Homo sapiens: one gene and its partners. The protein of the gene in region 1 interacts with the protein of each later gene in a biochemical or structural test. Each region holds a gene or a part of one and is shown in the gene's direction. Other genes may lie near its edges. The genes, in order: DAB1, APLP1, MYO6, MAPK14, RELN, ITSN1 and CRKL.

The links.
Region 2: the proteins of DAB1 (region 1) and APLP1 form a complex in vitro, tested with the Homo sapiens proteins (one study listed by BioGRID).
Region 3: the proteins of DAB1 (region 1) and MYO6 form a complex in vitro, tested with the Homo sapiens proteins (one study listed by BioGRID).
Region 4: the proteins of DAB1 (region 1) and MAPK14 form a complex in vitro, tested with the Homo sapiens proteins (one study listed by BioGRID).
Region 5: of the proteins of DAB1 (region 1) and RELN, one has a biochemical effect on the other in vitro, tested with the Homo sapiens proteins (one study listed by BioGRID).
Region 6: the proteins of DAB1 (region 1) and ITSN1 form a complex in vitro, tested with the Homo sapiens proteins (one study listed by BioGRID).
Region 7: the proteins of DAB1 (region 1) and CRKL form a complex in vitro, tested with the Homo sapiens proteins (one study listed by BioGRID).

What each region holds. Positions count from the first base shown.
Region 1 is NC_000001.11:57,008,061-57,011,560, reverse strand, and holds part of DAB1 (disabled homolog 1), read left to right. Parts: exon of another isoform or gene 1-288; coding exon 289-416; exon of another isoform or gene 417-770; coding exon 771-866; 3' UTR 867-881; exon of another isoform or gene 882-3,500. UniProt on the Homo sapiens protein: Signaling adapter of the reelin-mediated signaling pathway, which regulates the migration and differentiation of postmitotic neurons during brain development.
Region 2 is NC_000019.10:35,871,574-35,875,073, forward strand, and holds part of APLP1 (amyloid beta precursor like protein 1 isoform 1 precursor), read left to right. Parts: intron 1-38; coding exon 39-172; intron 173-284; coding exon 285-463; intron 464-909; coding exon 910-1,040; intron 1,041-2,065; coding exon 2,066-2,140; intron 2,141-2,930; coding exon 2,931-3,089; intron 3,090-3,167; coding exon 3,168-3,296; intron 3,297-3,500. UniProt on the Homo sapiens protein: May play a role in postsynaptic function. The C-terminal gamma-secretase processed fragment, ALID1, activates transcription activation through APBB1 (Fe65) binding. Couples to JIP signal transduction through C-terminal binding.
Region 3 is NC_000006.12:75,752,239-75,755,738, forward strand, and holds part of MYO6 (unconventional myosin-VI), read left to right. Parts: intron 1-3,500. UniProt on the Homo sapiens protein: Myosins are actin-based motor molecules with ATPase activity. Unconventional myosins serve in intracellular movements. Myosin 6 is a reverse-direction motor protein that moves towards the minus-end of actin filaments.
Region 4 is NC_000006.12:36,107,808-36,111,736, forward strand, and holds the end of MAPK14 (mitogen-activated protein kinase 14), read left to right. Parts: intron 1-572; coding exon 573-640; 3' UTR 641-3,429; downstream 3,430-3,929. UniProt on the Homo sapiens protein: Serine/threonine kinase which acts as an essential component of the MAP kinase signal transduction pathway.
Region 5 is NC_000007.14:103,979,659-103,983,158, reverse strand, and holds part of RELN (reelin isoform a precursor), read left to right. Parts: intron 1-3,500. UniProt on the Homo sapiens protein: Extracellular matrix serine protease secreted by pioneer neurons that plays a role in layering of neurons in the cerebral cortex and cerebellum by coordinating cell positioning during neurodevelopment.
Region 6 is NC_000021.9:33,887,001-33,890,500, forward strand, and holds part of ITSN1 (intersectin-1), read left to right. Parts: intron 1-1,151; coding exon 1,152-1,300; 3' UTR 1,301-3,500. UniProt on the Homo sapiens protein: Adapter protein that provides a link between the endocytic membrane traffic and the actin assembly machinery. Acts as a guanine nucleotide exchange factor (GEF) for CDC42, and thereby stimulates actin nucleation mediated by WASL and the ARP2/3 complex.
Region 7 is NC_000022.11:20,927,407-20,930,906, forward strand, and holds part of CRKL (crk-like protein), read left to right. Parts: intron 1-3,500. UniProt on the Homo sapiens protein: May mediate the transduction of intracellular signals.

The sequences.
Region 1 (3,500 bases):
TTCTAACAAATTCCCAGATGCTACTGCTGCTGCTTGTCCAAGGACCATCCTTTGAGAACCACTGCCTTACCTATCAGTGTGGACGAGCTCCTTCCTGAAGTCAGATGTGTGAGAGGAAAGATCAATACGTACAGAGAGAGAATTCAAATATTCAACTGATTCCACTGGAAATAGGAAGAGGAATCCTAAGATTTGACTTCAATATAAGCAGATTCCTGAGGTTTCTTTGGGATACATTCATGGCAGCCAGGCACTTAAGATGTCTCTTTTTCTGTGGTCTCTGTGTAGCTCCAACCCCAGCCCCTAGACAGAGCTCTCCATCCAAATCATCTGCATCCCATGCCAGTGATCCTACCACAGATGACATCTTTGAAGAGGGCTTTGAAAGTCCCAGCAAAAGCGAAGAGCAAGAAGCTGTAAGTGACCAGTTTGTTATTTGTTTGTGTTTTTCCTTAAAATTAAGACCTCTGTAACTGAAATGGATAATGCATGAGGAAGCCTACATAGAAAAGAATGCTGGCTCAATCTCATAAGTTCTCAAGGGGTTGCTAAAGGGGCTTTCTTTTGTGTTCAAATGAGTCAGCTGAAAAGGACTGCCTTTTTATTAAATTGTTACTACAAGTCCACATTTGTGGTGTAGCATCCTCTAAATGCCGTTGCACCCTCCTTTACAATAACTGATTGTGCTGCATGAAAGTATATCCAGGTGTCTTATATTTTCAATGCTTGAAAAGAGAGAAAAAAAAAAGTATTATCTTCTTGTGTTCTAGCCTGATGGATCACAGGCCTCATCCAACAGTGATCCATTTGGTGAGCCCAGTGGGGAGCCCAGTGGTGATAATATAAGTCCACAGGCCGGTAGCTAGATAGCGCAGGTCTGGGTAGGTATCTGTCCTTTTTATCTCCTTTACCCTTAAGCTATCTGCTTTCCCTTTTGGTTGTTCTTCACTTCTGAAGCCACATCCTCAATGTTTGCACCATGTCTCCTTGCCTGAGCTGTATTGCTGATGTTTGCACCATCGCTCCTTCCCTGAACTGTATTCCTGATGTTTGCACTATTTCTTCTTGCCTGAGCTATATCACCAGTGTCTGCACCATGTCCCTTTGCCTGGTGTCTACGTTCTACTTTGCCTTTTCTCATGGATGCATGACCTTTGACATATCCTGGGAGGTAGGGGTAGGGGTGAGAAGTGGGAACTGATCATATTATTTTATTAATAATATGTTCTGCGTGGTTGGTGGTGATAGAATGAGGCATGGTCCATGCTACTTAGCATGCATTTAGTTTCTGGAAGCATCAACATTTTGAGATGGACACATTCTGCCCACCCTGATAATTTCTCAGTGAGCCATGGTCCAGATGCTTTAATCTTTTAAGCAAAATGTCACTGCATTTGCCTACAGTCTGCAGATCTAAAGAGGTCACCAATCAAACACACAGAGAAGCCAGACTAAGAAGCAAAAACAAGCAGTGCTTGAAATAAGATTGATCGAGATGTAAGATCAGAGGAAGCCCTTTTCGTCTAGCCAGAAAGGACCCTGCACCCTGCATCCTTTCTGATGTGAAATTCAAAGCCCAGAGATGTGTAGCACTCACTTCTGAGGCTGTGCTGTTTGCACCTGTGCTGCAGCATGTGGATTGCCACCAAATCACTTCAGATTCCATCAGCAGCTACTTTGAGAGAGATGTACTTACATTTACTAGAAGTGGCTTTTGGCACTTGAATTTCAATACATCTGATTTGATCGAAAGAAAGAGGAGCTGATGAAGCAAACCTTCTTAGGAGACAGAAGTACACCTTGTTACCCAGACATGATTTCTAAGGTCACTTCTTGACAAACGTGTTCAATTTTCAGATACCTTCTTAGTTTTCTATAAACACACAGGACTGCAAGGCCATTCCCAAAAGGCTCCTTTTTTAAGTTCTGAACAGCATGGTCAAAACCATTAAAATGGTAAACAGTTTTCTCCACTCATAAATGGATTCGGAGGCTACCTCATAAATGGATTCTGAGGCTACCTCAGAATTAGTCTTAGCCCACACGTAAGTTAGACAGTTACTGAAAGCTAATATGGTATTTTGAAAGTGTATTTTGTTAACAGGTATTTTTATTAAAGAACCTAACACACTGTGTAGGTTGCCACATTTTGTATCAGTGCAATAGCACATAATAATATGTCATGCCATGCAAAACCACCTACGATTCACTTAGAAGTTCACTCTTGCAAAGCTACTTCGGGAGTTGATATATTGAAAGCAAAGTCAATGTTTCAGGAAAAAGAAAAGTTGGGGACTATAGGCAGACTCCTTGGGATGATTCCCCACGAGGTATTTTACCCCCCGCCTAAGTTGTATTTCACGTGCTCAACCTTGCCTTGAAAAATTTGGTGAATAAACTAGAGGTGACAAGAGCCATTCATCAGGATAACAGCAAACATCATCCTAAAATTGAAGTTCTTCTAGAAAACAAAGATGACTTACACCATTTGCAGATCAATGTATTAAACCCTCATCTTTATGAACCTGTTCAGCTTGAGACAATCCTACAAGCCAAACTGTTTCATGGGGCTTTGGTCTGTTCCACATTTAATGCTCTGTCCAGTACCCCAAGCCACAGCTGAGCTGTAAATGGACATAGCATAGTAGTGTGGGAAGAACTCAGGATTTGGACTTGAGTTTAAATCCTAACTCAGCTACTTAATAGTGGGAAATCTTGGGCAAGAACCAAAATTTGAGTCTTGGTTTCTTCATCTGCTAGAAGGGGCTTATATTCTCCATAATGGTAACTGAGATAGTTTATGTTGAGTATCTAGCGCAGAGACAGACACTGAGTAATCAGCTTAAAATTCAGCTTAAAAAAAATATCTAGGTTCTGGAACAACATTGTTTGAGTTCAGCATCTGGCTCCACCACTTCCTGGCTATGTGACACTGCTGTGATTTTATAATTATTCTCTATCTTATTTTCTTCATTTGAAAAATAAGGATAAAAATAGTGTCCACCTCATAGGGTTATTATGTGAACTAAATAAAGTGATATATGTGAAGCTCTTAGCACTGTGTATAGCACATAGAAAGCACCTAATAGATGCTAGCTACCCTCATCATCACCATCACCATCATCATTATCATCATCATTATCATCATCACATATATCCAATTAATGCACGCTCCCCACTCTCTTGGATTTTATACATTTAGCTTTCATGTATAAGACCATTGGTTGGGAGGTTTTGCTTTGTACTTTGTCTTCAGATAATTAATTTTCAATATGTGTCACAACAGCTTTGGAAGGGAAAAAAAGAAAAAAGCCTGCTGCTTAGCTCTCTGGCTTGCCCCACCCCATAATCAGAATGGCCCTGGTTTGGGCCTCACACAGCTCACTGCCAAAAAATGGGCTGTCTTAGAATCACATGCAAGTCAAAATAAGTACCTCCCAGCTCCAGAGGAGGGCTGGACTGTAATCTTCGGTGAAGTAATTTTCTCCCTTTGAAAGCTT
Region 2 (3,500 bases), on another chromosome or scaffold:
TCCCACAATCCTGGCATCTGGGCCCACTCTTCCTACAGGCCTGCAGCTCCCAGGGCCTCATCCTGCACGGCTCGGGCATGCTCTTACCCTGTGGCTCGGATCGGTTCCGTGGTGTGGAGTATGTGTGCTGTCCCCCTCCAGGGACCCCCGACCCATCTGGGACAGCAGTTGGGTGAGTGGGAGGGAACCCTCCATGCCCATCTCAAGGTTCCTGAGGCAGGGGATGGAAGCCTGGGAGCCCAGGCCTGGGTTCTTACTGCCTGGGTCCTCTCCTGCTCCCTCAGTGACCCCTCCACCCGGTCCTGGCCCCCGGGGAGCAGAGTAGAGGGGGCTGAGGACGAGGAAGAGGAGGAATCCTTCCCACAGCCAGTAGATGATTACTTCGTGGAGCCTCCGCAGGCTGAAGAGGAAGAGGAAACGGTCCCACCCCCAAGCTCCCATACACTTGCAGTGGTCGGCAAAGGTGAGGCAGTCTCTGAACCCCTGGGGCCTCTCCACCATAGAGGGAGAAAGATCTGGGGGAGTCTTGCTGGGGGGTGTCTTTGGGAGGGGCCTATAGGGGAAAGGCCCAACTGAGGAGAAAAGACGAGAGTATCTTTGGATAAAATAGAAGTAGAAGGGCTAACCTGCCAAGGGAGGGGGTGGTTTGGGGGTACTTGGGAGTAGAGGGGCCATTGGGTAGGTCTTGAGGATCATTTCAGGAAAGCTTGGAAGATGGTGTAATGGATTCCTAAGCTTTGCAAGAACAGGCCCAGTCCAGAACTACATCTCCCATAATGCCAGGCAGCAGCGGTGGCTAAACTGGGTGCATGATGGTCTCCAGTGCACTCTAGGAAATGTGGTTCTCTAGGTAGAAAAGGCGACCTGGAGGTGGGCTGCAGACTGACCTCCTGATCCCTGGTCTTGCAGTCACTCCCACCCCGAGGCCCACAGACGGTGTGGATATTTACTTTGGCATGCCTGGGGAAATCAGTGAGCACGAGGGGTTCCTGAGGGCCAAGATGGACCTGGAGGAGCGTAGGATGCGCCAGATTAATGAGGTGATAATACTGGGGGCCCCAGGACCCCCTACAGTACAGAGCTCCCTAAATACCAGGAAATTCCTCCAGGACACATTGATACTACCTCCAAAGGCTCCCTAAGCCCCTTTGACCTTGAGCTCTCAACACCACCCCCTAAGATGGCCAGAGATCCATGGCCCTTCTAGAATCCCACTGAGACGCTACCAGGTTCTCTGGAAACTCTGGTCTATGGTACTCTTTCACTTTATTGGTTTTTTTTTTTTTCTTTTGTTGTTGTTGTTGTGACGGAGTTTCGCTCTTAACACCCAGGCTGGAGTGCAATGGTGCGATCTCGGCCCACTGCAACCTCTGCCTCCCGGGCTCCAGCGATTCCCCTTCCTCAGTCTCCTGAGTAGCTGGGATTACAGGCACCCACCACCACGCCCGGCTAATTTTTGTATTTTTAGTAGAGACAGGGTTTCACCATGTTGGCCAGGATGGTCTTGAACTCCCGGCGGGAGGAGATCCACCCGCCTCGGCCTCCCAAAGTGCTGGGATTACAGGCATGAGCCACCACGCCTGGCCTCTCTTTCACTTTAAACTCCTTCTGGATCTTCCCTCTTGGGAACCCAGGAGCCAGCGAGACTTAAGGGATCTGGGGCCTTTAAATCTTTTTTTTTTTTTTTTTTTGAGACAGAGTTTCGCTCTGTTGCCCAGGCTAGAGTGCAGTGACGTGATCTCCCACTCACTGCAAGCTCCACCTCCTGGGTTCACGCCATTCTCCTGCCTCAGCCTCCCGAGTAGCTGGGACTACTGGTACCCACCACAGCGCCCAGATAATTTTTTCTGTTTTCAGTAGAGACAGGGTTTCACCATGTTAGCCAGGATGGCCTCAATCTCCTGACCTTGTGATCCACCCACCTCGGCCTCCCAAAGTGCTGGGATTACAGGCATGAGCCACTGCGCCCAGCCATGGGGCTTCTAAAATCTTAAAGAGGGGTTGGGGGACTTGCCAGGTGGATCAGGGTGGATTCTGGGATCCTGAAGCTCCCCTCCCTATGCAGGTGATGCGTGAATGGGCCATGGCAGACAACCAGTCCAAGAACCTGCCTAAAGCCGACAGACAGGCCCTGAATGAGGTAGGACAGCCCCAGTGGGTCCTACTCATGCCTGTCCACCACCTGGAGCACACTCAGTTTCACCTGGCTCTGGCTGTGCCCTGCCCATCCAGTTCCACCCCTTCCCACCTATCTCAGCCTTTCCTGGCCCCATGCCTACATGCAGCTCTGCCCCTCTTAGCCGTCATCTGACCTGACACTGCTCTCCTCCCCAGATTGGCCATATTCGGCCCCATCTACAGACTTGACTTGCCTCTCAGGGCTGGCTCTGGAGTCCTGTCCCAAGCCAGGGCCTCTGCAGATGCAGCCAGGGCCTTCTTGGTCTCTCTTTGATGCATTTATGTCTCTATCAGGCCCCGCCCCCTGATTCTGGCTCTGCTGGGCCAATCTCACCTTTATTAACCTGACCTACCCCATGGAGACCCCACTCATGTTAGCCCCCATTCCAGCTCTTTGTCCCACCCCTATCGTGTCATTTATACACAGCCTGTCTCCAGTTTGACCCTGCCCAGGCCAGGAGCCCTGCAAGGCTTTGTCCCTTTCACCTTAACATTGGTCAGTTCTGCTCCCAGATTGCTCCCACTCAATCTTACAGTTTACATCCTCACATTGGCTCCCAGTGGGCCTAGTCCCACCTCCACTCTGCCTGGCCCTGTAGCCCACCCCTTCCAGTCCATAACCTTTGGTTCTGCCCAGGCCTGGACCCCTGGAACGCCCCCCAACCCCATGTAGCCCTGCCTTTCCAGGCTCTCTTTGACCAGGCTTTGACCCATCTTCTCCTCTCCTGACCCTGTGCCCACCCGCTCCCCAGCACTTCCAGTCCATTCTGCAGACTCTGGAGGAGCAGGTGTCTGGTGAGCGACAGCGCCTGGTGGAAACCCACGCCACCCGCGTCATCGCCCTTATCAACGACCAGCGCCGGGCTGCCTTGGAGGGCTTCCTGGCAGCCCTGCAGGCAGATCCGCCTCAGGTGCGGGGACCGTGGGGGCAGAGAGCAGAGGGTGAGAAGGGTCAGGGCGGGCTTGGGCATCCTGTGTCCCTTCCACAGGCGGAGCGTGTCCTGTTGGCCCTGCGGCGCTACCTGCGTGCGGAGCAGAAGGAACAGAGGCACACGCTGCGCCACTACCAGCATGTGGCCGCCGTGGATCCCGAGAAGGCACAGCAGATGCGCTTCCAGGTGCTCACATCCTTCCAGCTCCCAAATGCGCCGCTATTCCTCAGACGCCCGCGCCTCAGGCTCTTCTCTTGTCCCTTAGACCCTCTTTCTGTCTCTTGGACCCCTTCCTATCCCCTGAACACCGCTTCTCTGCCCCTTCCCAGTCTCTCAGCTCAGCTTCCTGACCCTGAAACATGGACCCTCACATGCTGTGTCTTTGACCCC
Region 3 (3,500 bases), on another chromosome or scaffold:
GCCTTGGCCTCCCAAAGTGCTGGGATTGCAGTTTCATAGAGTTTAATTATGATACCCATAATGAGATATTTCATAATAATTTGTGAACTGGCCCTTTACTAGTATAAGATTGTTGCACATTTATTAGGCATCTTCCATAATTGGACAGATCACAGATTGAGGGGCTTGATCTACAAAATAATTTTCTAGGCTAATGGTCTTGTCCTTTTACAGATGAGGGAGTCTAGTCTCAAAGAATTAAATGCTTGCTCCAGAAGGGCAAAGTCTGGATTCACACCTGAGTCATTTGACCACGAAGCCCCTGTTTTTTCCACCAGAACAGTTTGCCTTGGTTTCAGTTCACTTGGTGGACTGTTTAAACCGGCAAAACTGGTATTATGTCAAAGAATGTAATTCAAGGTTTGACAAAAGCATCCAGGAGTAGATATGATAGGCCGTGAATGTAGTTCTGGAACAAATTTAGAATCCTGTGTTTGTGTCTTCATTCTCAAGTTGACAGCCTTGAACACTGATGCTGCTGCTTTCTCATTTCTCGTATAGTTCTAGGACATTATATGTATTGTGCATGTATGTATGCTGTTAAACATATGTATGTGTTTAACTTTGATAGGTTTGTGAGAACTAGAATTAGATTGTAATGTTCCTGGTTGGGATAGAACTTTAAAATTTTCCTCTAATGAAAAAGATAATTATTTATGCAGTAGCTATCCTTTAAATATTACATAATTAATTCTCTAATCTTGAGAGGGGGGACTCGTTTTTAGATTATGATTAAATTGTCACTTAGAAACTATTAGTACAAATCTTTTCTATGGTCTGTGGAATATCCCTTGAGCCGCAATAGACATAAATGACAACAGTGAGCAAATAAGCCCATTTTTTCTGGTAACAAACTAGGAATCATGCATTTCAGCAGTAGGATGTAGTTGGGTAAATGAGCAGAAGCAAGGTAGGAAGGCTGAGTTGGGTGGCTACCATTACGGATTTTTTTCATTATTTGCTTTGAACTATTAGGAATTGTGCATCTCAAGGATATTCATATTCAACTGTAAATACAAAACCACCACCTAATATAAATTAGTAATATTACTAATATAAATTGGTAATAGATCTGTGACACACACATCAAGAAGTAGAGTTAAATAAGCTTAAGTTCTCTTTTGGAGGCATTATATCTATATGCATGTATCTATGATCTATATATGTGTGTGTGTGTGTATATATATATATATATATATATATGTTTTTTGGAGACAGAGTCTCATTCATGCCACATGCAGTGGCATGATCTCGGCTTACTGCAACCTCCATCTCCCAGGCTCAAGTGACACTCCCACCTCAGTCTCCGGAGTAGCTGGGACCACAGGTGTATGTCACCATGCCTGGCTAACTTTTTTGTGTTTCTGGTGGAGAGGGGTTTTGCCATGTTGCCCAGGCTGGTCTTGAACTCCTGAGCTCAGATAGTGTGCTGCCTCGGGCTCCCAAAGTACTGGGATTACAGGCATGAGCTACCGTGCCTTGCCGGCATTATATAATGTTCAGAGGAACCAGGATCTTTTCATTTAAAATGGTTCTGATTTTATTTGACAAATTTGAGTGGACTAGAATCTTTAAATATTTTGCAACGTCTTTCTAGTTACTGTTTTCAAAAATTAGCTTATTTTTCTTATTGATTAGTGTAAGAATGACATAATGGTTTGAGAAATGACCATAAGTCCACCAAAAGTTTTCCCTGTGAGTACTGAAGCATAAAAAGTAAAACCTAAAGAAGAAATCTGGCATCTTTAGAAATCTTGCTGGTGCTAAAGAGAGAGGAAATAATTTTTTATACAGAAGGCATGTCTCAAGTGAAACCAAAACACCAAAGCACATTCCTTCAGTGTATATTCACATGGGGTAAATATGATGCTGAGTAATGTGCACAAAGGAAACTCTTGACAAAAACACAGTCATCTTTTGAGTATGTTAGGTCATTTGTTATTTCATTTGAAAATAACCTGGCTGGGGCGTGGTGGCTCACACCTGTAATCACAGCATTTTGGGAGGCCAAGGTGGGTGGATCACCTGAGGTCAGGAGTTCAGACCAGCCTGGGCAATGTGGTGAAACCCCATCTCTACTAAAAATACAAAAATTAGCTGGGTGTGGTGGTGGGTGCCTGTAATCCCAGCTACTTGGGAGGCCAAGGCATGAGAATCACTTGAACCTGGCAGGTGGAAGTTGCAGTGCACTGAGATTGGGCCACTGCAGTCCAGCCTGGACGATTGAGTGAGACTCCGTCTCAAAAAAAAAAAAAAAAAAAAAAAAAAAGTAAGCCGCTGACTAACCTTTACAAGGTAATATATTTTCTGTGGCAGAATTTTTTGATTTCTGATCTATGTGGATGAACATCTTTTTCAACAGATATTTACTGAGGGCCCACTGTGTTTTAGATATGACAAGTGTGAACTGATTCCTCCCTGTGCTGGCATATCTTTGGATCCAGGAAATAGGAAGAGTTGCAGAGATATGAAAAAATAAATAGAAACCATCCATTTGAAATCCAAAGACATATACGTCAAAAGCTAATAACTTATATTTGGATGGCATTTTATTGCTTTAAAATATTTTTGTATGCATTTGGTCCTTAAAACAACTTGATGAAGTAGATTTAGTAAATTTATTCCTTTTCTACAGGTAAGGAAATGGAGACTCAAAAAATTAAAAATACTGGCTGCATGTGGTGGCTCATGCCGGTAATCCCAGCACTTTGGGAGGCTGAGGTTGGGAGGATCACTTTAGCCCAGGAGTTTGAGAACAGCCTGGGCAACATGGTGAAACCCTTTCACAAAAAATATTATACAAAAATTAGCTGGGTGTGGTGGTGCACGCCTATAGTGCTAGCTGTGTAGGAGGCTGAGGTTGGAGGATCTCCTGAGCCCAAGAGGTCAAGGCTGCAGTGAGCTGTGATTGCACCACTGCACTCCAGTCTGGGTGACAGAGCAAGATCCCGTCTCTAAATAAATAAATACATTACTTAAAATTAAGTAACTTGTTCAAGGTCAATGTGGCTACTTAGAAGCATCATCTCTGTGTAGTCCCAAAGTAGTAAGTCCTCCACTTTCCCCCTATTGCTTATGTATTTAACCTCACATTATGGCTTCAAGTCAGGTGGTTCAGGAAGTTCTGAAAAATTAGGGTCACTAAAATGGTGATTATTAAATTGTTACAGGTTATTTTTTAATGGAAGATAGAAGATGAGCATGATGCATCATTATGGAACTACTTTAACATTTTAAATAGATTGCTAGACTGAAATTGGTAATTAGCTTTTCTAGTTGGAGAATTTTTAAAGAACAATTAGTTAAAAAAAGGAAGGAGAAAAATGTTCTGGGGGAATTTTGAAAATAACTTTTATTACTTTGTGCATTGGTAGTGATCCGATAGTTACAACTGTCTTTGTAAAGACTCACTAAAGAACTGTGTGTGCGTCTGTGTTGGTTCCTTTATGTCTTCATTTATT
Region 4 (3,929 bases), on another chromosome or scaffold:
CTTATGTCTGGTCTGATTTTATGCACAGCCCCTCACATAGGAGTTTTGCATGGAGAGTTGAGGTTTTCAGAGTCATTGCATTTACAACATCTCTCTGAGCTTTTACAGTTTTACAATTAGTAGAACTGGGGCAAAGAGAATTTATGTCTTATCAGTTAACTTAGAACTAGTTAGGGACATAGCCAGGAATGGAACCCATGTATCCTGTGTCCAGTCCCATATTCTTTCCACAAAACACAAGTTCAGAACTCTAGTTAAATCCCAAGAGCCAAGACCATCTGTTGCTGTAGCTTGTGAGAGTGCTCTTTCATTCTTGAGCACCTCCGTAGAGAGCTTAAAAGAAGAGGCACTCAGCGATGAAAAACATGAGAAAAAAAATGGTTCTTTTCTATGTCCCTTGAACTTCTGTGTGATAACGTGTTCCAGTAGGCTATTACATACAAGCTGTGAGGTAGCCCATCAAACCACTACCTGGACAGAGAGGAAGGATCTTGAGCTTAGAAGTCAGAGTGCTTGCCAGCAAAGAGAATAGCCTAAACTCTCACATCTTACTTTTCCTTCCCAATTTCTAGGCCTGACCTATGATGAAGTCATCAGCTTTGTGCCACCACCCCTTGACCAAGAAGAGATGGAGTCCTGAGCACCTGGTTTCTGTTCTGTTGATCCCACTTCACTGTGAGGGGAAGGCCTTTTCACGGGAACTCTCCAAATATTATTCAAGTGCCTCTTGTTGCAGAGATTTCCTCCATGGTGGAAGGGGGTGTGCGTGCGTGTGCGTGCGTGTTAGTGTGTGTGCATGTGTGTGTCTGTCTTTGTGGGAGGGTAAGACAATATGAACAAACTATGATCACAGTGACTTTACAGGAGGTTGTGGATGCTCCAGGGCAGCCTCCACCTTGCTCTTCTTTCTGAGAGTTGGCTCAGGCAGACAAGAGCTGCTGTCCTTTTAGGAATATGTTCAATGCAAAGTAAAAAAATATGAATTGTCCCCAATCCCGGTCATGCTTTTGCCACTTTGGCTTCTCCTGTGACCCCACCTTGACGGTGGGGCGTAGACTTGACAACATCCCACAGTGGCACGGAGAGAAGGCCCATACCTTCTGGTTGCTTCAGACCTGACACCGTCCCTCAGTGATACGTACAGCCAAAAAGGACCAACTGGCTTCTGTGCACTAGCCTGTGATTAACTTGCTTAGTATGGTTCTCAGATCTTGACAGTATATTTGAAACTGTAAATATGTTTGTGCCTTAAAAGGAGAGAAGAAAGTGTAGATAGTTAAAAGACTGCAGCTGCTGAAGTTCTGAGCCGGGCAAGTCGAGAGGGCTGTTGGACAGCTGCTTGTGGGCCCGGAGTAATCAGGCAGCCTTCATAGGCGGTCATGTGTGCATGTGAGCACATGCGTATATGTGCGTCTCTCTTTCTCCCTCACCCCCAGGTGTTGCCATTTCTCTGCTTACCCTTCACCTTTGGTGCAGAGGTTTCTTGAATATCTGCCCCAGTAGTCAGAAGCAGGTTCTTGATGTCATGTACTTCCTGTGTACTCTTTATTTCTAGCAGAGTGAGGATGTGTTTTGCACGTCTTGCTATTTGAGCATGCACAGCTGCTTGTCCTGCTCTCTTCAGGAGGCCCTGGTGTCAGGCAGGTTTGCCAGTGAAGACTTCTTGGGTAGTTTAGATCCCATGTCACCTCAGCTGATATTATGGCAAGTGATATCACCTCTCTTCAGCCCCTAGTGCTATTCTGTGTTGAACACAATTGATACTTCAGGTGCTTTTGATGTGAAAATCATGAAAAGAGGAACAGGTGGATGTATAGCATTTTTATTCATGCCATCTGTTTTCAACCAACTATTTTTGAGGAATTATCATGGGAAAAGACCAGGGCTTTTCCCAGGAATATCCCAAACTTCGGAAACAAGTTATTCTCTTCACTCCCAATAACTAATGCTAAGAAATGCTGAAAATCAAAGTAAAAAATTAAAGCCCATAAGGCCAGAAACTCCTTTTGCTGTCTTTCTCTAAATATGATTACTTTAAAATAAAAAAGTAACAAGGTGTCTTTTCCACTCCTATGGAAAAGGGTCTTCTTGGCAGCTTAACATTGACTTCTTGGTTTGGGGAGAAATAAATTTTGTTTCAGAATTTTGTATATTGTAGGAATCCTTTGAGAATGTGATTCCTTTTGATGGGGAGAAAGGGCAAATTATTTTAATATTTTGTATTTTCAACTTTATAAAGATAAAATATCCTCAGGGGTGGAGAAGTGTCGTTTTCATAACTTGCTGAATTTCAGGCATTTTGTTCTACATGAGGACTCATATATTTAAGCCTTTTGTGTAATAAGAAAGTATAAAGTCACTTCCAGTGTTGGCTGTGTGACAGAATCTTGTATTTGGGCCAAGGTGTTTCCATTTCTCAATCAGTGCAGTGATACATGTACTCCAGAGGGACAGGGTGGACCCCCTGAGTCAACTGGAGCAAGAAGGAAGGAGGCAGACTGATGGCGATTCCCTCTCACCCGGGACTCTCCCCCTTTCAAGGAAAGTGAACCTTTAAAGTAAAGGCCTCATCTCCTTTATTGCAGTTCAAATCCTCACCATCCACAGCAAGATGAATTTTATCAGCCATGTTTGGTTGTAAATGCTCGTGTGATTTCCTACAGAAATACTGCTCTGAATATTTTGTAATAAAGGTCTTTGCACATGTGACCACATACGTGTTAGGAGGCTGCATGCTCTGGAAGCCTGGACTCTAAGCTGGAGCTCTTGGAAGAGCTCTTCGGTTTCTGAGCATAATGCTCCCATCTCCTGATTTCTCTGAACAGAAAACAAAAGAGAGAATGAGGGAAATTGCTATTTTATTTGTATTCATGAACTTGGCTGTAATCAGTTATGCCGTATAGGATGTCAGACAATACCACTGGTTAAAATAAAGCCTATTTTTCAAATTTAGTGAGTTTCTCAAGTTTATTATATTTTTCTCTTGTTTTTATTTAATGCACAATATGGCATTATATCAATATCCTTTAAACTGTGACCTGGCATACTTGTCTGACAGATCTTAATACTACTCCTAACATTTAGAAAATGTTGATAAAGCTTCTTAGTTGTACATTTTTTGGTGAAGAGTATCCAGGTCTTTGCTGTGGATGGGTAAAGCAAAGAGCAAATGAACGAAGTATTAAGCATTGGGGCCTGTCTTATCTACACTCGAGTGTAAGAGTGGCCGAAATGACAGGGCTCAGCAGACTGTGGCCTGAGGGCCAAATCTGGCCCACCACCTGTTTGGTGTAGCCTGCTAAGAATGGCTTTTACATTTTTAAATGGTTGGGAAAGAAAAAAAAAGAAGTAGTAGATTTTGTAGCATGTGATGTAAGTAATGTAAAACTTAAATTCCAGTATCCATAAATAAAGTTTTATGAGAACAGAGCCGCACTCATCTGTTTATGTATTGTCTGTGGCTGCTTTTGTGCTACAGTGACAGAGGCAAATAGTTGCAGCAGAGACTATAGGACCTCCAAAATGTCAACCATTTACCATCTGGCCCTTTAGAGAAGTCTGCTGACCCTTGGCCCAGGGCTACAGTTTTCTCATCTATAAAGTGAAGTTCAGGTTTTTTTCATCTTTGACATTTGAGACTATCTATAAGCCATATATTTTTATTATAAAACTGCCAGAGAGAAGGTTTGGTTTGTATATATAGGTGTACATTGTTTGTAAGCTTTTAGGCGAATGTATTTTATGACTCTGTTTTGTCTTAGCTGGCTACGGTCCTTGAAAATATTCTTCAGAATGACTGAATTGCATCACGGGATGAAAGAGCCACGGGGTCTCACAGCTGAGTTCTCAGGGACTTTGCTGATGTGCTTCCTTTCTTGGTGTCCTTGGAATGACACCCAGCAGGTGTCCCAGGGTGGATTGTGGGGCTC
Region 5 (3,500 bases), on another chromosome or scaffold:
TATAAGGCAGCCCTAAATCACTCAAAATAAAAAACAAAGCTAAGATAATTAGATAGCATTGAATCCCACTAAGAAATAGTTACAAGCGTTCTGAGTTTTCAAAGTAAATGTTTAAAATGCAGGTTATCCTTTAATGCTGAATTAGCTTTCCTTAACAAAATAAAACTTTATGTTGAAAACAAAATAAAATTTTATTATAGCTAGGCACAGTGGCATATGCTTGTGATCCTAGCTACTTTGGAGACTGAGACAGGAGGATCACTTGAGCCCAGGATTTCAAGACCAGCCTGAGCAACGAAGTGAGACCCAGTTTAAAAAGAAAATTATTGATTAAAATACTCTTACATGATAGGAAAGGTGACATGTTATAGATAGCACCGATTATTGATGTCCACTGGTGCCCACAAACCAAGTGACCTGAAAAGGAGTGACAGTAGACCATAAGGACTAAGGTCACCTTAGTCCTCTCTCTCTGCCTTTCCCATCTCCTTCCCACTGTATCTCATCTTCTCTTCCTCTCTCTAAATTTTATCTTTGTCTTTCCTCCTTTGCTTCCTTTGACTCCATGCCATGGTCCTTGCTTTCCCTCTCCTCTTCCTTTCTCCTTTCTGCTTCACCACTTTGTTCTTTTTCTTTTTAAATTCTTTCACTTTCTTCCCTTCAGGTTTCCCCCATTGCCATCTCTACACCTTTTTTCTCTTCTTACTGATAGTAATATGAAAACAAATCAGTACATTTATTATCAACTATTTAGGTCGGTCATAATTCTTGTATCAAGCTCTGAATTGCTGTGGTCCTCCCATAGAATTTCTTCATATCGCTGAATTACATGGAGCTGCAAGGGAGCCATGGAGGTGAGTATTTTTTAACTGGATGCTGAAGATAGACCCGTGTTCATATCTTGCTCTGCCATTTATTGGCGGTATAATTCAGCGATATGAAGTGAAAATCTGTTGATTAGGGTCTTTGGGAAGGTTCTTTTTATTATTATTATTGAGGCAGAGTCTCAGTGTCGCCCAGGCTGGAGTGCAGTGACACCTTTTCGGCTCACTGTAACCTCCACCTCCTGGGTTCAGGCGATTCTCGTGCCGCAGCCTTCTGAATAGCTGGGACTACAGGTGCACACCACTAGACCAGGTAATTTTTGTGTTTTTACTAGAGACAGGGTTTTGCCGTGTTGGCCAGGCTGGTCTTGAACTGTTGACCTCAGATGGTCCACCTGCCTTGGCCTCCCAAAATGCTAGGATAACAGGCATGAGCCACTGCACCCAGTCAGAGTCTTTGGGAAGACTCTTGATAAAACTGATAAAGAATATTTTATAAAAGACTCAGCAGGCACGCACTTTTTGCCCTAACCTTGCCTATTCTAGCTCGGAGATGATACAACCATCTTGTGACCTTGAGGATAATGGCCACATGCCAATGATGGTGGAACAAAACTTTAGAGGGAGCTGGGTCCTCCTTTATATCTTCAGGCAGCTATGCCAGCCCTGAAATAATGACGGGACTTCTTGTATTGTGAGAAAAATTAAGTTGTTTCTGTTACTTGTAGCTGAATGCAATCCTAATTAATATGTATTTCATCTAAACACACAGATGTCCCAGTTAACATTTGCTTTTAGGTCAGTCATAATTCCTGTATCAAGCTCTGAATTGCTCTGATCCTCTCATAGAGTTGGTTTTGGTAACCTTGATAAAACTGAGGTGTTTCCTAGGAAATTTTTGACAATATATTTTCAAAATATCCCTTAAGGTATGCTACTTTTACAGGTGGCAAAGATAGTGCATTTTATGTTAGCTTTTCTAATTATGCTTTGAGAAGGTAACCTGTGCCTGACCTCTTATATACTGATAATTTTTGCTTGTTCGTTTCCTTCACCTAACTTTATTTCCTGACACTATCTCTCTAAAATGCAGTGTCACCATATGTAAATCCTGTTGACATTTAAAACATCTAGACGTGTGACATGGTTGTGAATGTGAGCTCTGCCCCATCCTTAACCTTGTTTGTCACATCTGGCTCAGCCTCTAGGACTATATCCAAGTTTGTCATTCCTTTTGCTTATTACATATTGACATAGGAAACAGACATCTGAGTCTTACCTTCAGGAACATGTAATCTCTTTGTTTGGGTCACCTTTGTTGTGAATGTTGAGATATGTTATGATCATAGTTCCAGTTCTTTTCACATTTCCTTTTCTTTAATAAACACTTCCTGTATTCTCATCCTGCAAATAATGTTATATGTCCAGTGTGTGTGATGGAGGAATATGAGGAAATTGGTTGGTTCTAAGCTCTTAGAAAAAGTGGATTTACACTCCAATTTCAAGCACTAATATTACCTGAAAAAAAAGGCAACTCAAAGACTCCTGAATGAATGAATTATGACAGTGACAATAGCAAACCCTAAAGTAGCACTTAATATGTGCCAGGCACTGAGCTAAATGCTTTACACATATTAATTCATGTAATTTTCACAAAATCCTCATGAGGAAGGTACTGTTATTCTCATTTTATGCGTGCATAAACTGAGTCACAGAGAGGTTAGTGTTTTGCCCAAGATGGCAAAGCTGCTGTGTAGTTCTCCAGAATCCATCCTTTTAGATAGTACGCATTTATTTTTCAAAATGGTGGTTATTTCAGAAAAGGAAAATAATAATAAATAATAAAACTAATCTCAAAAATGAGAAAACAAAGAAAAGTAAAAGCTAATTTTATTATTTAAAATAGAGATTGCAAAATCAAACCAGAAAGCTGATATCTATGCTAAACAAAGCTGGAATTTCGTACCCATAAGTCCATAATTCTTTGACCAGACATTGTCTCCCAGGTAAAGCACAAAGCAATCACCTAGTATACTGTTGGCCTGAAAGAGTTAACATGCCTTCAAAATATAATGACACATAAAAATACAAAAAAAGTGATTTACAACCTTTTTAAAATTTATTTTTAATATTTTGATAATATAATTTTTATTAAGAATTTTTTTTTTTTTTTGGAGACAGAGTTTCGCTCTTGTTGTCCAGGCTGGAGTGCAATGGCATGATCTTCCGTCAACGAAACCTCCGCCTCCTGATTCAAGCAAGTCTCCTGCCTCAGCCTCCTGAGTAGCTGGGATTATAGGCATGCGCCACCACACCCAGCTAATTTTGTATTTTTAGTAGAGACAGGGTTTCTCCATGTTGGTCAGGTTGGTCTCGCACTCCCGACCTCAGGTGATCAGCCCACCTCGGCCTCCCAAAGTGCTGGGATTACAGGTGTGAGCCATCGCGCCTGGCCAAAAAATTTTAAGTAATGAAGAAACGTGTTCTCTCACACACTAATAGAACTTATATAGGATTTGAATATAAGAGAATTGAAAAATGTAGGTGGGGAGGGACATTTTAAAGATATTTATTGAAGTTCATCTATTGTATATTCCTCTCTTTAGGAAATTCCAGTAAATGTTGTTAGTCTGCAGGCACAGCCTGTGAAACTGAATGATGTGGCACACGGTAGAA
Region 6 (3,500 bases), on another chromosome or scaffold:
ACTACCTGTCTCTCCCTCAACCCAATAAAAATCACCGGTGGGCATGGTGCTGCAGGCCTGGAATCCCAACACTTTGGGAGGCTGAGGCAGGAGGATCGCTTAAGCCCAGGAGTCTAAGACCAGCCTGGGCAACATAGTGGGACCTTGTCTCTACAAAAAAATACAAAACTTAGCCAGGCATGGTGGCATGCACCTGTAGTTCCAGCTACTCGGGAGGCTGAGGCAGGAGGATTGCTTGAGCCTGGGAGGTCGAGGCTGCAGTGAGCCATGATGGTACCACTATATTCCAGCCTGGGCAACAGAGCAAGATCCTGTCTCCAAAAAAAAAAAAATCACAGAGTAAGTTAAAAGATTATGGTCTCAACTTAATTATAACCGAAGAAGTGAGGGTCAAATGCTAGCATTATCTGTACAAGGTTTAAATGGCTCCATATGGCCTTCATCTTTTAGTACTTTTTATATGAATTATCTCATTGTGAGTTAGGTACTCGTTGTGGTAGCTGGTTAAATGTTTGAGTGTGACTGGAACAGTTTGGCTCCCAAGTCTGGGCTCTTAACTACTATGTGTACTGTCAACTTCTAATTCTTTTTTCTTTTTATTTTTTTTATTTATTTATCTTTTTTCTTGTTGTTCTCGCTCTGTCACTCAGGCTGGAGCACAGTGGTGCAATCACAGCTCACTGCAGCCTCCACCTCCCAGGCTCAAGCAATCCTCCTGCCTCAGCCTCCTAAGTAGCAGGGATGACAGGCATGAACCACCATGCTAGGCTAATTTTTAAAAATTTTTTGTAGAGACAGGGTCTCACTCTATTGCCCAGGCTGGTGTCAAACTCCTGGACTCAAGTGATCCTCCTGCCTCGGCCTCCCAAAGTGCTGGGATTACAGACGCGAGCCACTGTGCCCGGCCACCTTCTAATTCTGAGAGATAAAGGTTGGGGTTGGGTTTTTTTTTTTATTTAAGTAATGAAATACCATGACACATTGGCAACTCCGCTGGGGAGCGAGTTGGAAATCCTAGTGTTGGTTTACATCAGAGCCCAGAGAAGAAGGGAGAGCATAACAGTTCATCAGGGGGTCCCCAATATGCCAGACATGTGCCTCGAAGAGAGGGAATGGTCCCTCTTAGGAGGGTCTGTTTGTTCTCTTTTCAGATTTTTTGGGTCGGACGGAGATCCGTGTGGCGGACATCAAGAAAGACCAGGGCTCCAAAGGTCCAGTTACGAAGTGTCTTCTGCTGCACGAAGTCCCCACGGGAGAGATTGTGGTCCGCTTGGACCTGCAGTTGTTTGATGAGCCGTAGGCAGCGGGCTCAGGGTGTGCTCAGCAGGGTCCCAGCCCACGGCCACACATGCTGTCTGGAAATTGTATTCCTTTTCTAAGAAACCACCATTTGGTATTCAGTCACAGGGATATGGGATGGCAAAGACAGGCCCCTCAAAGCTCCTAGGAATCATTCTCGACAATCCTCCCTGCCCCGAAACAATTTCCTGTTTCATGAAACAAAGCTGTGTTTTCCTTTGTCCTCACTACAGGTCTCATTATGGCTTCTAGGGTCGCTGAAATCCCATAGCCCTCAACAGGGTGCAGCTGGGAGTCTAGCCCCTTCCCGGGCTTGAGGGATGGGTCTGGTTACTATAAAATAGATTTATAAATGCAATGTCTATATTTTTGGAGAACTCATGTAACCCTCCTGTTTCTTACATCCACCAGTCCCCAAGTAGACTTCTTGGCCTACAATGCCCAGTCCTTGGTGTGAGTTTAGAAACAATTATGACGGTCCTGTCATTGCTTCAGAATCCCATCTCTCCTGCAGGGAAATGCTGCCTAGAGCTGATCACTCGGTGAGACGGTCTGATCAGGCCCTGGCTTAGCTCTTTGAAGAGCTGGTCTATGGAAGTTTCCAGCATGTGCACCGTTATAGCCGTTCCTTCCCCCTCTAGGCCTTGTATTAATATATGTCAATGAAAACACACTGGTGTATTGTTGCGTGGATTCAGTTCTGATTCCCAGCATGCTTAGAATATGGTCACAGAAAGTCATTATCTAGAAAGTCACCCCTCTGCTGGATCAGATCACTACAGGTCACTGGAAAGGCAACTTTACAATGTTGGGTCACTGGGTCTCGGTTGGCAGCCATGTTGGAAAAATCTCTTTTGGCTCGGAGGCCTGTGATATTTCATAGCAGCAGTCGTTGCTGGTGACCTGTTCTGTGCTTGAATGTGCTGAATCCTGATTGTTGTAGGACATTTCAACAGCTCTTTTTGGTACGTTCCCCAAAAAGCCATGTCCTAGATCCCCAAGGCGTGAAAAGGAAAAATATCAAGCTGGAGGTTGGGAAAGAAAATGAAGGCAGTCCATTATGTGGTGGGTGAAAGACCCTAGGAGGATGCAAGCCCCGCACATCCCGGGGCAAAGACCTAAGACACTTTTCCACCCTCCACCACCCCAACCTCACATAATATGCTTGTTGCAAGAGTCAGGACTTTATGACTATGTGCCAAGCTGTTTGGTTTGAGTTCTTTAATTTTTTTTTCCCTTAAATGCCAGGAGATCATCTGGTTAGTTAGATAGTAACTTGATTTGCTAATGAAAAGTGGGGGCCGTGTTTTGTTTGCATGTTAATATTCTCATAATCCTAGTTTGTTGTGGTCATGAAATGTCCTTTGCATGTTCTGTTGGTACTGGAGTCTAGCTTTCCTGTACTAGATGGTGTTCTCTTTGATTGTAGGTCCTTAGACTTTAATTAGGGTTATCAAAGTGCTTTCTAAATGATAGCATCAGCGTTGTGGCAGAGTACCTCCTTTGCTGGGAACTGAATGTGTAGTGTTATCATTTCCCATGAGAGCCCGGTCATACTTCAAGCAATTTTTTTAAAAGTGTGTGTTGGAAAGGACAACAAAGTTTACATTTCATACTTTTAAGAAATACTTTATTATTTATTTATTGAAGATAGTGTAGAATTTTGTATCAAGAACAACAGACATAAGTATTTTTTGAAACAAGCAAATATACCCTGTAGTTAGAAACTTTCAACTGAACATGTTAGAGACCAAGTTTAACTTCAGGCATGCATTTGTTTACCATTTCCCAGCAGAAAACATGGTTAAAATACTTTAAGTTTATATTTTTTGATGTTGTTAAGAAACTTTTAAATTAAATCTATAAATAGACATGCAACTCATGCTTTCCTATTTCTATAACCAACACCGTTTGTTTAGTGTATTTATGAAAGATATGCTACCATGGTAGAAAGAAAAGTATTCAATGTGTAAATGGGGTAGTGTGGGTCACCATTCCGATCTCTTTTTGTTTTCTGTCCTGTCTTTTCTTCATTGACTTTATTTGCGTGTTAATGTTGGACATCATTGTTCATGTAGGTAGCGTATGGTATGCACAATGACAAACAATCGTTTTAGGTCCCAGGTCACCCACTCATAGTGTCCTATTATTGGAATTAATGTAGCATGAGAAAGCAATATGTGACTCTTTTTCCTCAAGTG
Region 7 (3,500 bases), on another chromosome or scaffold:
GTCTCAAACTCCTGACCTCAGGTGATCCAATTGCCTCGGCCCCCTAATGTGCTGGGATTACAGGCATGAGCCAGTCACCACGCCCAGCTGGAATTAAGTTTTCTACCTTTTTTTTTTTTTTTTTAACTGTGAAATATTTCATACATAGAAAAGAGTAAGGGTGCCGTGGCTCACGCCTGTAATCTCAGCACATTGGGAAGCCAAGACAGGTGGATCACTTGAGGTCAGGAGTTCGAGACCAGCCTGGCCAACGTGGTGAAACCCTGTCTCTACTAAAAAGACAAAAATTAGCCGGGCGTGGTGGTAGATGCCTGTAATCCCAGCTACTTGGGACGCTGAGGCAGGATAATTGTTTGAACCCGGGAGGTGGAGGTTGCAATGAGTTGAGATCGCACCATTGCACTCCAGTCTGGGTAACAGAGCAAGACTCTGTCTCAAAAAAAAAAAAAAAAAAAAAAAAGGAAAAAGAGTAAGCCTGGGCACGTTGGCTCATGTCTGTAATCCCAGCACTTTGGGAGGCCGAGGGAGGCAGATCACTTGAGGTCAGGAGTTTAAGACCAGCCTGGCCAGCATGTGAAACCCATCTCTGTTAAAAATACAAAATTAGCCCGGCAGTAGTGGGGCCCTGTAATCCCAGCTACTGGGGAGGCTTAGGCACAAGAATAGCTTGAACCCAGGAGGCAGAGGTTTTGGTGAGCTGAGATCACACCACTACACTCCAGCCTGGGCAATAGAGTGAGACTCTGTCTCAAAAAAAAAGTATATGTAAGCTGGGTGTGGTGGCATGCACCTGTAGTCCCAAATAGTGGGGAGGCTGAGGTAGGAGGATTGCTTGAGCCCAGGAGTTCAAGACCAGCCTGGGCAACATAAACCCCCATCTCTGCAAAAAATTAAACAAGGATTGGCTGGGCATGGTGGCTCATGCCTGTAGTCCCAGCTACATGGGAGGCTGAGGTGGGAGGATCACTTGAGCCTGGGAGGTCAAGGCTATAGTGAGCCATGATCGTACTGCTGCACTCCAGCCTGGGCCATAGAGCAAGACGCTATCTCAAAAAAATTTACAAAACAAGCCAAAAAAAACTATCATCTGTGTGCTCCCTTTAAAAAATAAATAAATAAAACATTGGCCAGGCGTGGTGGCCCAGACTGTAATCCCAGGACTTTGGGAGGCTGAGGTGGGAAGATTGCTTGAGCTCAGGAGTTCAAGACCAGCTTAGACAACATGGCAAGACCCTGTTTCTACCAAAAATACAAAAATTAATCGGATGTGGTGGCATGCACCTGTAGTCCCAGCTACACAGAAGGCTGAGGTGGGAGGATCGCTTGAGCCTTGGAGGTTGAGGCTGCAATGAGCCATGATTGTGCCTCTGCACTCTAGCTCGGGCAACAGAACGAGATCCCATCTCAAAAAAAAAAAAAAAAAAAAAAAAAGGAATATTACCAGCACCTTTGAAACTTCCTTTTTCTAGAAGTTGATTGTATTGGTTCTTAGCATGCATAAGGAGATTTTAAGCTTAGAACATATTAGCACTTGGTTTAAAGATGTTTTGTGTATGGTTTATACATGTAGAAACTGAGAACGCTTTTAACCAAAAGAGCTGAGAGATTCGTTATCATCAGAAAAGAAAAGTCAGTTACGAATTAGTTGTTAGGGGCTTTGCTGCTCAAAGTGTGTAGTGGACAATAGGCAAAAAGTGAGAAGCATGGTCAAGGGTGTTTGGATGGGCTTGAAAACCCTGTGCATTTTATTTTATTTTATTTTATTTATTTATTTTTGAGTCGGAGTCTCACTCTGTTACCCAGACTGGAGTGCAGTGGCGCGATCTCGGCTCACTGCAAGCTCTGCCTCCCGGGTTCACACCATTCTCCTGCCTCAGCCTCCCGAGTAGCTGGGACTACAGGCGCCTGCCACCACGCTCAGCTAATTTTTTTGTATTTTTAGTAGAGATGGGGTTTCACTGTGTTAGCCAGGATGGTCTCGATCTCCTGACCTCTTGATCCGCCCGCCTTGGCCTCCCAAAGTGCTGGGATTACAGGCGTGAGCCACTGCACCTGCCTTATCTATTTAATTTTTTGAGACGGAATCTCTGTCTGTCGCCCAGGCTGGAGTGCAGTGGCATGATCTCAGCTCACTGCAACCTCCGCCTCCCGGGTTCAAGCAATTCTCTTGCCTCAGCCTCCCAAGTAGCTGGGCCTACAGGCACACGCCACCACACCTGGCTAATTTTTGTATTTTAATAGTGACAGGGTTTTGTCATGTTGGCCAGGTTGGTCTCAAACTCCTGACCTCATGATCCACCTGCCTCGGCCTTCCAAAGTGCTAGGATTGCAGGCATGAGCCACTGCGCCTGGGCAACACTTTATATTTTAAAGGGAAGTTGGGGGAGGGTGCTATTTTCAACCTTGCTCAAAGAACAAATAATTGGGAAGCAATAAATTTTCTGATGAATATGCTTCATATTTCTTTAGACAGTGGGGTCTAATGGAAAGGCTAAGATATCTGACATGGAGCAACATGTATTTATCTCTTCAGTGGAACTAATGTGTAATTTTCAGGGGAGTTTGATGAATAAATGAGTTTGAGAATATAGGGCAGAGGACTTGGAATTTGTGTCAGGGTTATGGCTGGTGAGATTGATTTGGTGTCAAATTTATGAATATCTCTGCAGATACTAACACAGAAAATGAGCCCCAAGGTCACTATAGCAGTATAGTAGTGGAGGGAAATAGAAACTATCTTTATCAAATTTCTACACAGACATACCCCTCACCAGGGAAGCAAGGAAGTTGAAAAGCACACTTTGCCTCCCTAACCCAGGAATTTAGATGGGGGATCAGCAAACTGTTGAGTAAAGGGTCAGATTTTAAATATTTTCAGCTTTTCCATAGAGTCTCTGTCCAACTACTCAACTATGCCTTTGTAGTGAAAAACAGTCATAGACAATACGTAAATGAATGGGCTTGGCTATCTTCTTTTTTTTGTTTGTTTTTAAGATGGAGTCTTGCTCTGTCACCCAGGCTGGAGTGCAGTGGTGTGATCTCAGCTCATTGCAACCTCTGCCTCCCAGGTTCAAGCAATTCTCTTCCCTCGGCCTCCCAAGTAGCTGGGCCTACAGGCGCACGCCACCACACCTGGCTAACTTTTGTATTTTTAGTAGTGACAGGGTTTTTTGTCATGTTGGCCAGGTTGGTCTTGAACTCCTGACCTCAAGTGATCCTCCCGCCTCGGCCTCCCAGTGTTGGGATTACAGGCGTGAGCCACCACACGCCTGGCTTTTTTTTTTTTTTTTTTTTTTTTTTTTTGAGATAGAGTCTTAACTGTTTCAGGCAGTGACGTGATCTTGGCTCACTGCAAGCTCCGCCTCCCGGGTTTACACCATTCTCCTGCCTCAGCCTCCCGAGTGGCTGGGACTACAGGCGTGTGCCACCACACCTGGCTAATTTTTTGTATTTTTAGTAGAGAGACAGGGTTTCACCGTGTTAGCCAGGATGGTCTCAAT